2 separate regions of the Homo sapiens genome follow, and region 2 is reported to be linked to region 1. The links are microRNA targets in miRTarBase. Many come from high-throughput screens and were not tested one by one. Region 1 holds a microRNA gene; the other region holds the end of a gene's coding sequence.
The links. Region 1 holds the annotated microRNA hsa-miR-4794 (UCUGGCUAUCUCACGAGACUGU, at 1,595-1,616, opposite strand). A microRNA usually pairs through its seed, bases 2 to 8, with sites in the 3' UTR of a target mRNA and lowers its output. Matches are read on the target gene's strand: a 7mer-m8 pairs with bases 2 to 8, a 7mer-A1 pairs with bases 2 to 7 and ends in A, and an 8mer does both.

Region 2: the mRNA of SMIM14 is a reported target of hsa-miR-4794. Seed matches in the 3' UTR shown: 7mer-m8 at 2,459-2,465 and 7mer-m8 at 1,832-1,838.

The regions. Positions count from the first base shown.
Region 1 is chr1:64,577,067-64,581,470 of GRCh38, reverse strand. It overlaps MIR4794 (microRNA 4794), which reads right to left and starts at 1,624; the gene lies at 1,548-1,624. The region is part of intron 2 of CACHD1 (cache domain containing 1); the gene reads right to left. LOC124904195 (a long non-coding RNA gene) reads right to left here. Exons shown (of 2, transcript XR_007066150.1): 2 at 1,627-4,404.
Region 2 is chr4:39,548,610-39,553,013 of GRCh38, forward strand. It overlaps SMIM14 (small integral membrane protein 14), which reads right to left. Exons shown (of 5, transcript NM_174921.3): 5 at 1-3,549. The coding sequence ends at 3,517. The region is part of intron 2 of UGDH-AS1 (UGDH antisense RNA 1); the gene reads left to right. Among named protein-coding and RNA genes, the nearest start is that of UGDH-AS1, 23 kb to the left of the region's middle.

The DNA of each region.
Region 1 (4,404 bases):
GCATACTGCTTTTTCCTCCATTGTTCCCATCAAATACCACAGCTTCATCAAAGATCTCCAAGGAAAACTGTGTTGTTTTTTCTTCCCTTTAAACAAAATGTTACCCAAAGGAAATGACTGATAGAATTATAGCTAATTGGTTTTGTAGTGCTATTCATTATCATCACACTGGAGGAAAACTAATCATCTCCTTTGGGTCATGCGTCTCACACAATCCAATAGCTTCCAGGCTGAGAACATGGAGTCAAATCAAAATATCTTCATTTGTTATTTTCAAGCCAATTTTAAATCTTGATTTTGTTCCAGGGATATTCTATAGCTTTCAGGGTCTCAATTAAATAACTGAGGTTCTCAGCCTTGCTAGAAATTATATAAACTATAAAGTTTAGAAAAACTTCCAGACATAACAAAGGGATATGAGTATAATGTTTAATTGGATAATGGGTTGTCCAAATTCATTTTATCATTTTCAAAGGAGGAGTTGTGGGTCTTGGAAATGTACAAAATGACTCACAATACTCCCTGACCTAGACTTCTTACTATTAAAATAAAGTAGGTTTTCCTCATTGAGGTCATTGAATTAAAACATATAAACCCAGTTTAATTTAGACAACTGTTGGTTTTGCCACCCTCAGGGGACATTTGGAGAAAATTTTGATTGTCACAACTTGGTGGAGAATGCTGCAAAGTAGATAGATAGAGGCCAGGGATTCTCCTAAACATCCTACAATGCACAGGACAGCACCCCAAAACCAAGAATTATCTGGTTCAAATGCCACTAATGGCCCAGATGAGAAACCTTGAAACCTCGATTGATTGCTTTTTTAACAGGTGTTGGAAAATCACTTTTTAAGCAAAAAATTCACATTTTATTAAGGATATTAATATAACCCTTTCAGGGGTCCTCTAAAAATCTTTAGCAGTATCCTCTGATTGCAGTCAAATAATTATTAACCAGATGTTTTATTTAAGGGCTATTCTTGGGTATGATTCTGACCAATTTATTTTTTCTTTTCCAATTTTTATTTTAGGTTCGGGGGTACATGAGCACATTTGTTACATGGATAAATTGCACGTTACTAGGGTTTGCTGTACAAATGATTTTGTCACCCAGAAAAACTTTGATTGAGAGAAAAATCAGTAAATTATCCCAATTTGTAATTCAGTCAATAGGTTCCAAACTGTTCTTCTATTTGAATTCTCCACCCATCCAAAATGATAACTTATCAGGGAAAAAAAATCCTGTACATTTCAACAACTGCAATTTTTTTCATTCTTTGTTTTTCCTTCCCCAAAGCAATATTAAACAGGCCATCACACGTGGCCTAGATATGGAGAGAGGACTATTCACTCATTATCAAACGTGTTAACGTGGTTTTTAAACAGCAGCTTGCAACTAATCTAACAACCCTCTTTTCCTAGACTTTCACATTCAGTGGGCAGTAGAGGGTGTCAGAGCAATAGGCCCAGCTTGAAAACCTTATATTCTCATAATGCCCTGCATAAGCCATCTCATAACACACATTAAATTTGATGCTGTTTTTTTTTTTTAACATCTGGCTATCTCATGAGACTACAAGCACTGTTAGGACATACAGTCTCGTGAGATAGCCAGATGTTAAAAGATAACATACGATATATGTTTTTGTTCACCACTGTATCTTCAGGCTCTAGCACACTGCCTGGCATTATAGACATAGAAAAAATATTTAATGAAGTGATAAAGATTTTAAAAATTCATTCCTGAGAGTCATCAACCTTATCTTCTGTTCTAATAATCAACTCTTTTAAAACATACTTATTTTTAAAATATACAACAATATGTATTTCTGGAAGCTCCATCAAGAAGCAAGTTCTACCTTTTCTTTGTAGGTCCTGACTTCTGATAAAGTAAATATCATTAATTTCCCACATAGGAGTATTAAGTGCATAGTCCTTTATTGCCCTTGGGAATAAATGTTTTGTAACATAATGAACATAAGATGTAATTAAAAGAACTAAATTTTGAAATATCTTCACAAATTCACTTTAAAATAAAAACAAAATTTGTAGTCATATGTCCTTCTCTCTCACACACACACTCTTAATTCCACTTGAGAAATACCCAAGGGTTTCTTCTACACATTTGGAGGATTCTAACTTTGAAGAGTCAGATCTAGCTAAACTCAAGATATTCCAATCTGGTCCACTGCCTCTTTCTACATAGGCCATGAGCTAAGAATGATTCTTACACTTTTAAATGTTTTTTAAAGGAGAATATTTTTAATATTTAGTAGTTACATGAAATTCTAATTTTACTGTTAATATTTATTGGAACATGATCATTTGTTTACATATTGTTTACGGCTGCTTTCATTTTACAATGGCAGATTAAGTAGCTGCAAGAGTCTGTATGGCCTGCTTTGCTATAGGTAGAAGCCAGCGGCCCTAATTTATCCCCAGATGGAAACATAATCCCAGTGTGGTGCCATAATCCTAGTGTAGTGGTTTTATAGAAATTTCCTACAAATTCTTTAACAGGTCTACCCTTTGGCAGGTGGGGTCTACATGTCCCCCTGTCCCCACTGCTTAAATCTGGGTAGGCTTATGATGGCTTCTACTAGTGGAGTACAGAGAAAGTGATACTACGTGACTCCTAAAGCTAGGTCATAAAAGGACATGCCTGTCTCTTGGAACGCTTACTCTTGGTAGCTGTCAGCTACGCAGCTGTAAGAAGTCCAAGACACATGGAGAGGCCACAGTCAGTGCTTAGTTGGCAGCTCCCCAGCTTAGCATGTCTTCCAAGTCATCCCAGCCCAAGTTGTGGCATGAACCAAGAAACTTCCAGATAATTTCAGCCCCCAGAGTAGCCCCTTGATGAAGCCATGGACATCATGAAGCAGAGATAAGCCATCCTTGCTGTGCCTGGTCAAAATCCTGACCCACAGAATTTGTAAGCATGTTTGTTTATGCCACTAAGTTTTGGGTGGTTTGTTATGCAACAACAGAAAACTGGAAAATGCAGGATCAGCTGAATTCCATCCTAGGATATACATATTGAAGCAGGTGAAACAAAGCTCCTAAATGTAGGCACTGCATCTAAATCATCAAAATTATCAAGATTGTACCCTGTGAGTTGTAAATCTGTTGCAAAGAGATTTCAGGGTTCTTCAGAAAATTTTAATAGCTACCAGGACCTTACAGTGTGGGTATTCTCATTTTATATCAATGAGTTAAGTGATGAGCCCAAAGCCACAAAGTAAGTGGAAGAGCCATTCACTTATACAAATTCAAAGTCTGTGTGCTCATGCACTCGCTGCGGTGCCTCAGACAAACCAAACCTAAAAGAAGCTGCAATGGTGGCTTGAAATATTAAAATATGACAAATCACACAGGCTGAGAATTTCTGTTAACATAATCAAACAAGGCAAAGAGCAGAATGTTAAAAGGTCCTCAACTCTGGGCTGGCTGTGGAACTGAATCTTCCTTGGGATTGCAGGGTGACTGGTTGATGGGAGAGCAGCCCTGGCAGAGGTGTGTTTTACTGGGGGATCGGGGTAGAATGTCTGCCTTTGCCTTCCTGGTTAGGGTGGGCCTTCAGCTGCATTCTTCATCAATAGAGACAGAAAGTACCAAGAATACAGAGTCCAAACACCTATGGCACTTCACAAAAGGTGTCAAATCCATGCTCTGTCTACTTGGATTCACAGCTGTCAGTCAGAAATTCCCCAGTCTTTCATGTAGCAACATTCTATCTTGCCTTACTAAGAAAAATGCCAACATCTGCTGAGTGCCAACTATGTACAAGTCACAATTTTAGGCCTCTCACATGCATATACCAACTTAATCCTTTAAAGGACCCTATTAGGTGCACACTTCCATTTTCCAGAAGTAGACACTAAGGGGTAATTTGCTCAAGGTTACAAAGCTAGTAAGTGGTAGGGCTGGGATTCAAACCCATATTCTGACTTCAGAGCCCAAACCTTCAACCTTTACTCAACATTGCTTCTCTTTGTAATATGGAGATCAACCCTCTCCCCACATTTCTTTTCAAATCAATTTTAACAAATGTTGTGAAATGCTTGGCAGGATACCATAAGCTATGCACAGTCTCATTACTTTATAATAAGAATTAGATTTTTAAAAATTAATATGATTTCTAATAATATTCTTCAAAATTCCTATGAAAATCAAGTACTTTGAAGAAGTTTAGAATTATTAAATTTTACCACAAATATAAAAAAGGGGCCAGGAGCAGGGGCTCACACCTGTAATCCCAACACTTTGGGAGGCTGAGGCAGGTGGATCACTTGAGCCCAAGAGTTCAAGACCAGTCTGGGCAACATAGCGGGACACTGTCTCTTCCAAAAAATACAAAAAATTAGCCAAGAATATTGGTGTGCATCTGTAGTCCCAGCTACCCAG
Region 2 (4,404 bases), not on the chromosome of region 1:
TCAGATGAATGTTTACAAGCCAAATAATGATTTAAGAGTGTGCTCAATAAAAAGGCCATAGGTTTAAGAATTAAATGGAATAATATAAATTACTAGGTCAACAAGAATATTTCATGTATAGTACACTGTCTAAGGAATGCAGAGAAATTTTACAAGAAACCCAAGACTAAATACTTCATTAAGAACACTGGTTACTAAGTAAATAGATGGCTCATGTAGGAAAAAGCTAATATATGTAGATGTAATGTCAACTAAGTGCATGTGACAGAAATGAAGAACTAGGAATAAGAATCCAGATTTTCTGGCCAGGCACGGTGGCTCACATCTGTAATCCTAGCACTTTGGGAGGCCATAGTGGGTGGATCACCTGAGGTCAGGAGTTTGAGACCAGCCTGGCCTACATGGCGAAACCCCATCTCTACTAAAGATACAAAAATTAGCTGGGCGTGGTGGTGGGCACTTATAATCCCAGCTACTCAGGAGGCTGAGGAAGGAGAATCGCTCGAACCTGGGGGTGGATGTTGCAGTGAGCCAAGGTCGCGCCACTTCACTCCAGCTTGGGCGAAAGAGCAAAACTCCATCTCAAAACAACAACCAAAAAGAATCCAGATTTTTAGGTGTCTAATACTAGACATTCTGTATCCAAGTTTCAGCCATTTCATCCAATAAAGCCTTCTAAAGCCTTTTTTTTTTGAGACAGGGTCTCACTCTGTCACTCAAGCTGGAGTGCAGTGGCGTGATCTTGGCTTACTGCAACCTGTCTCCCAGGCTCAAGCGATTCTCCTGCCTCAGCCTCCCGAGTAGCTAAGACTACAGGCCGTGTCACCAAACCCGGCTAATTTTTTGTAGGCACGGGGTTTCACCGTCTTGGCCAGGCTGGTCTCAACCTCCTGACCTCAAGTGATCCACCTGCCCCAGCCTCCCAAAGTGCTGGGATTACAGGCATGAGTCACTGCGCCCAGCTCCCAAAGCCAATTTTCAATTATTTGTGAGCCATAGATTCAGTGACTACATCAATATCTCTTGCCAGGGATTGGCCTAACAGCTCAGAGAACAGATTGTTAGGATATATGGGCAAGCCTTCTAAGTTCAAGAGGCAAGAGCAGAAAATGGAATGCTATAGGGATTTAGCTCCATCTTAAGCCATTCTGGCCCTTTCTGCTCTACTTTACCAGCTATAGAGTTAGGAAGGCTTCCAGTAGGCCACAGCAAGAGGAAAAACCTTTATTCTGTGGGGCTCATTTATCCAGGATTTAACTTACCTGTGTCATGTTACCGATCTATTAACACAAGTAATTTAGAGTTGGTTATATTATTTCAAGAAATTGAGCACAAAGCCAGGATGTACAAGGAGGAATTCAAACAATCAATATTGGATTATATAATGAAAAGATGCCCTTACAATGTTTATGATCTAGAATGTAATCATAATAAAGGGGGGAAAATACCTTATGAGTATCACAATTGTATCAGAGACTATTAAACAGTACAATGATACAGAGAATTTATTCAATTCATACAAGTAATTTACCAGATCTAAACAGTGAATAGACTGACCTAAGGGGAAAAAAATCCTTACATTGATAGCAAAATATCTTCTAGCCCCCATAAATAATCTGCAATCATTTGCTAGGAAAAAAACTTCATAACCATATGGGTCATGCAGACATTTTTATTTATTTATTTATTTTGAGACAGAGTCTCGCTCTGTCGCCCTGATTGGAGTGCAGTGGCACGATCTCAGCTTACTGCAACCTCCGTCTCCCAGGTTCAAGCAATTTCCTGCCTCAGCTTCCCCAGTAGCTGGGATTATAGGCACACACCACCATGCCTGGCTAATTTTTGCATTTTTAGTAGAGATAAGGTTTCACCATGTTGGTCAGGCTGGTCTCGAACTCCTGACCTCAGGTGATTCGCCTGCCTCGGCCTCCCAAAGTGCTGGGATTACAGGCGTGAGCCACCGTGCCCAGCCCATGCAGACATTTTTAAGTGCTATTGGTATTCACTTTATTTCAAACTGAGCAAAACAATACAACCTTTTACTTTTTTATACATTTTAAAATTTCTCTCATATTAACATTCCTTCCTACCCCAATCCATCCCATCACCAAACAGGAATGAGATAAGGAGTGAAAAAAAGATGTATGTTTCTCATTTTCCTTCTTTTCCCTTGAAGTAAACCAGTAATTTATTAAAATATTTTATAGGTCAGAGGATAACAAAAGACTCAATGTAGTAAATAAGTAAATAGGCATTCAAATATCAGTAACCTAACAGGCCCTAATACAGCTTTAAGATTTTCTTCTTTTTTTTTTTTTGAGAGGGAGTCTCGCTCTATTGCTTAGGCTGGAATGCAGTGGTGCGATCTTGGTTCACTGCAACCTCCACCTCCCGGGTTCAAGCAATTCTCCTGCTTTGGCCTCCTGAGTAGCTGGGATTACAGGCACATGCACCAACCCTGGCTAATTTTTCTGTATTTTTAGTAGAGACAGGGTTTCACCATGTTGGCCAGGCTGGTCTCGAACTCCTGACCTCAAGTGATCCACCCACCTCAGCCTCCCAAAGTGCTGGGATTACAGGTGTGAGCCACTGCACTGGCCTAAGATTTTCATTTTAACAGGGAACTGTTAGAACAGAAAAGAAGCTTCCCAAGAGGCACTCATTTTAAAAATAAATTATAGCTTAAATTATTACTATGTGGATTATATCAGCAAAGGCAGAAAGAATTAATGTTTTCCTCCTTTCATGAACCTTGTAAGGCTAGTGTTGAGTGGCTTACAAATGTCATATAATGGACTGTAAATCATCTGCCATATTGATCAATCATGTTTATTTAAGGTTTTCTTAACATTAGAGATTTTTAATGGGAGTATAAAATTAGTAAACAACCATTTCATTTTTTCTCTCTTCCTATTCTAGCCACATAAGCCAGTTTAATCCATGACACAGATTTCAGCTGTAATTTGCAAAACAATCCAAGAGCTACCACAGTCCCCAAAACTACAGAAAACTGCCATCCACAAATAAACTACCAAGGTAAATGTAAATACAGCGTGGTTCTAATTTTCTTTCACACAATCCCAGACAACCCCAAATAACTTTATAAATACCTTATGAAAAAAAGCAATTTAAAAACCTATCAAATCTATTTAAAATATATAAATGCAGACCTCTCAAATTTCCTTCAATCAGGCCAGAAATTATCACAAAAATTATAATCACAGTTACAAACAGAATGAGTGGAATGTTTGTAAGTTTAGGACAACCAAAAAAGCCCCATGTAACTTTTTAAAAATATAATCATTCACTCAAATATACTGTAAATAGGAATGGCAGTAACACAGGAAGCAAAAATAAACTTGCAAGTGAAATTTCTAGAAGCTCATGAAAACAATACCATCCCATATTGCAGATACAAAAGGAAAAACAGTTCTAATGGGGTTAAGAGTACTCTGGTCATCTTCGTTCGTTTGGTCGTGCAAGGTGTTAACTATTTTCACTTCCCATATCACAAAGTTAGTCCACAGGAGGAGCTGGTGGATCTTGTCCCTGGCATTAGAAAGAAATAAATTATTTAATTGACTTTTTAAAAATTCAAAAAAATTTAAAATTTATTACTTTTTTAAAAATTGACTTATTAAATCCCAGTGCAACCAATCTAACACATAGAGAAACAACTGAGCAGCAATGCCCCCAACCATCCCATCCCAAATATATGCTTATTTGGACTTTTCATATGTTTTTACATGAGGGAACACTAGATTAAATAACACTGTGATTTTCCACCATTTGTCTCATTTTTCCCTGTAGAATGGAAGAGAGAGGGAATTTGTACAACAGTGATGTTATCACTCCTGCCAACCCCAGGAGTGATCTTCAAACCTATGAAAATATCTTCATCCCTCTTGCTAAAGTCGATTGGCTAAGCAAAGTACTGTATATTTAAAATGAAGCTAGGGACTTTTGTTTCTCAATACTGAATGTCTACGAGGATGCATGTGGCTGCAGTTGCTTCTGGTAGTCATCCTATAACCCTAAGGGGAGCCCATCTTGGAATGAAGTTGTTAGTATGAGGAAAGAAACTAGGTCTTTGATGACACTGTTGAAACTTTCTTAACACTGACCCTACCTCTGAATTTTTTTGACGTGTAAATCAATGAAGCCACTTGTTTTAAACCACTTGGAATTGACTTTTGTTAACTTGCAATAGAAAGCAAGTGAACTGTAAAGGAAAGATCAGAGTTTTTAAGATTCTCAAGATTTTATTTATTTACCCTGAAATGATACATGACGCCCGAGTTGGGGGTGATCAATATTTCTCCTTGGAATTAGTCTCAACACATTTTCTTACTTATTCCTAAGATAGTGGAACTACTATTCCTAGAAACACTGGCCTACAATGAA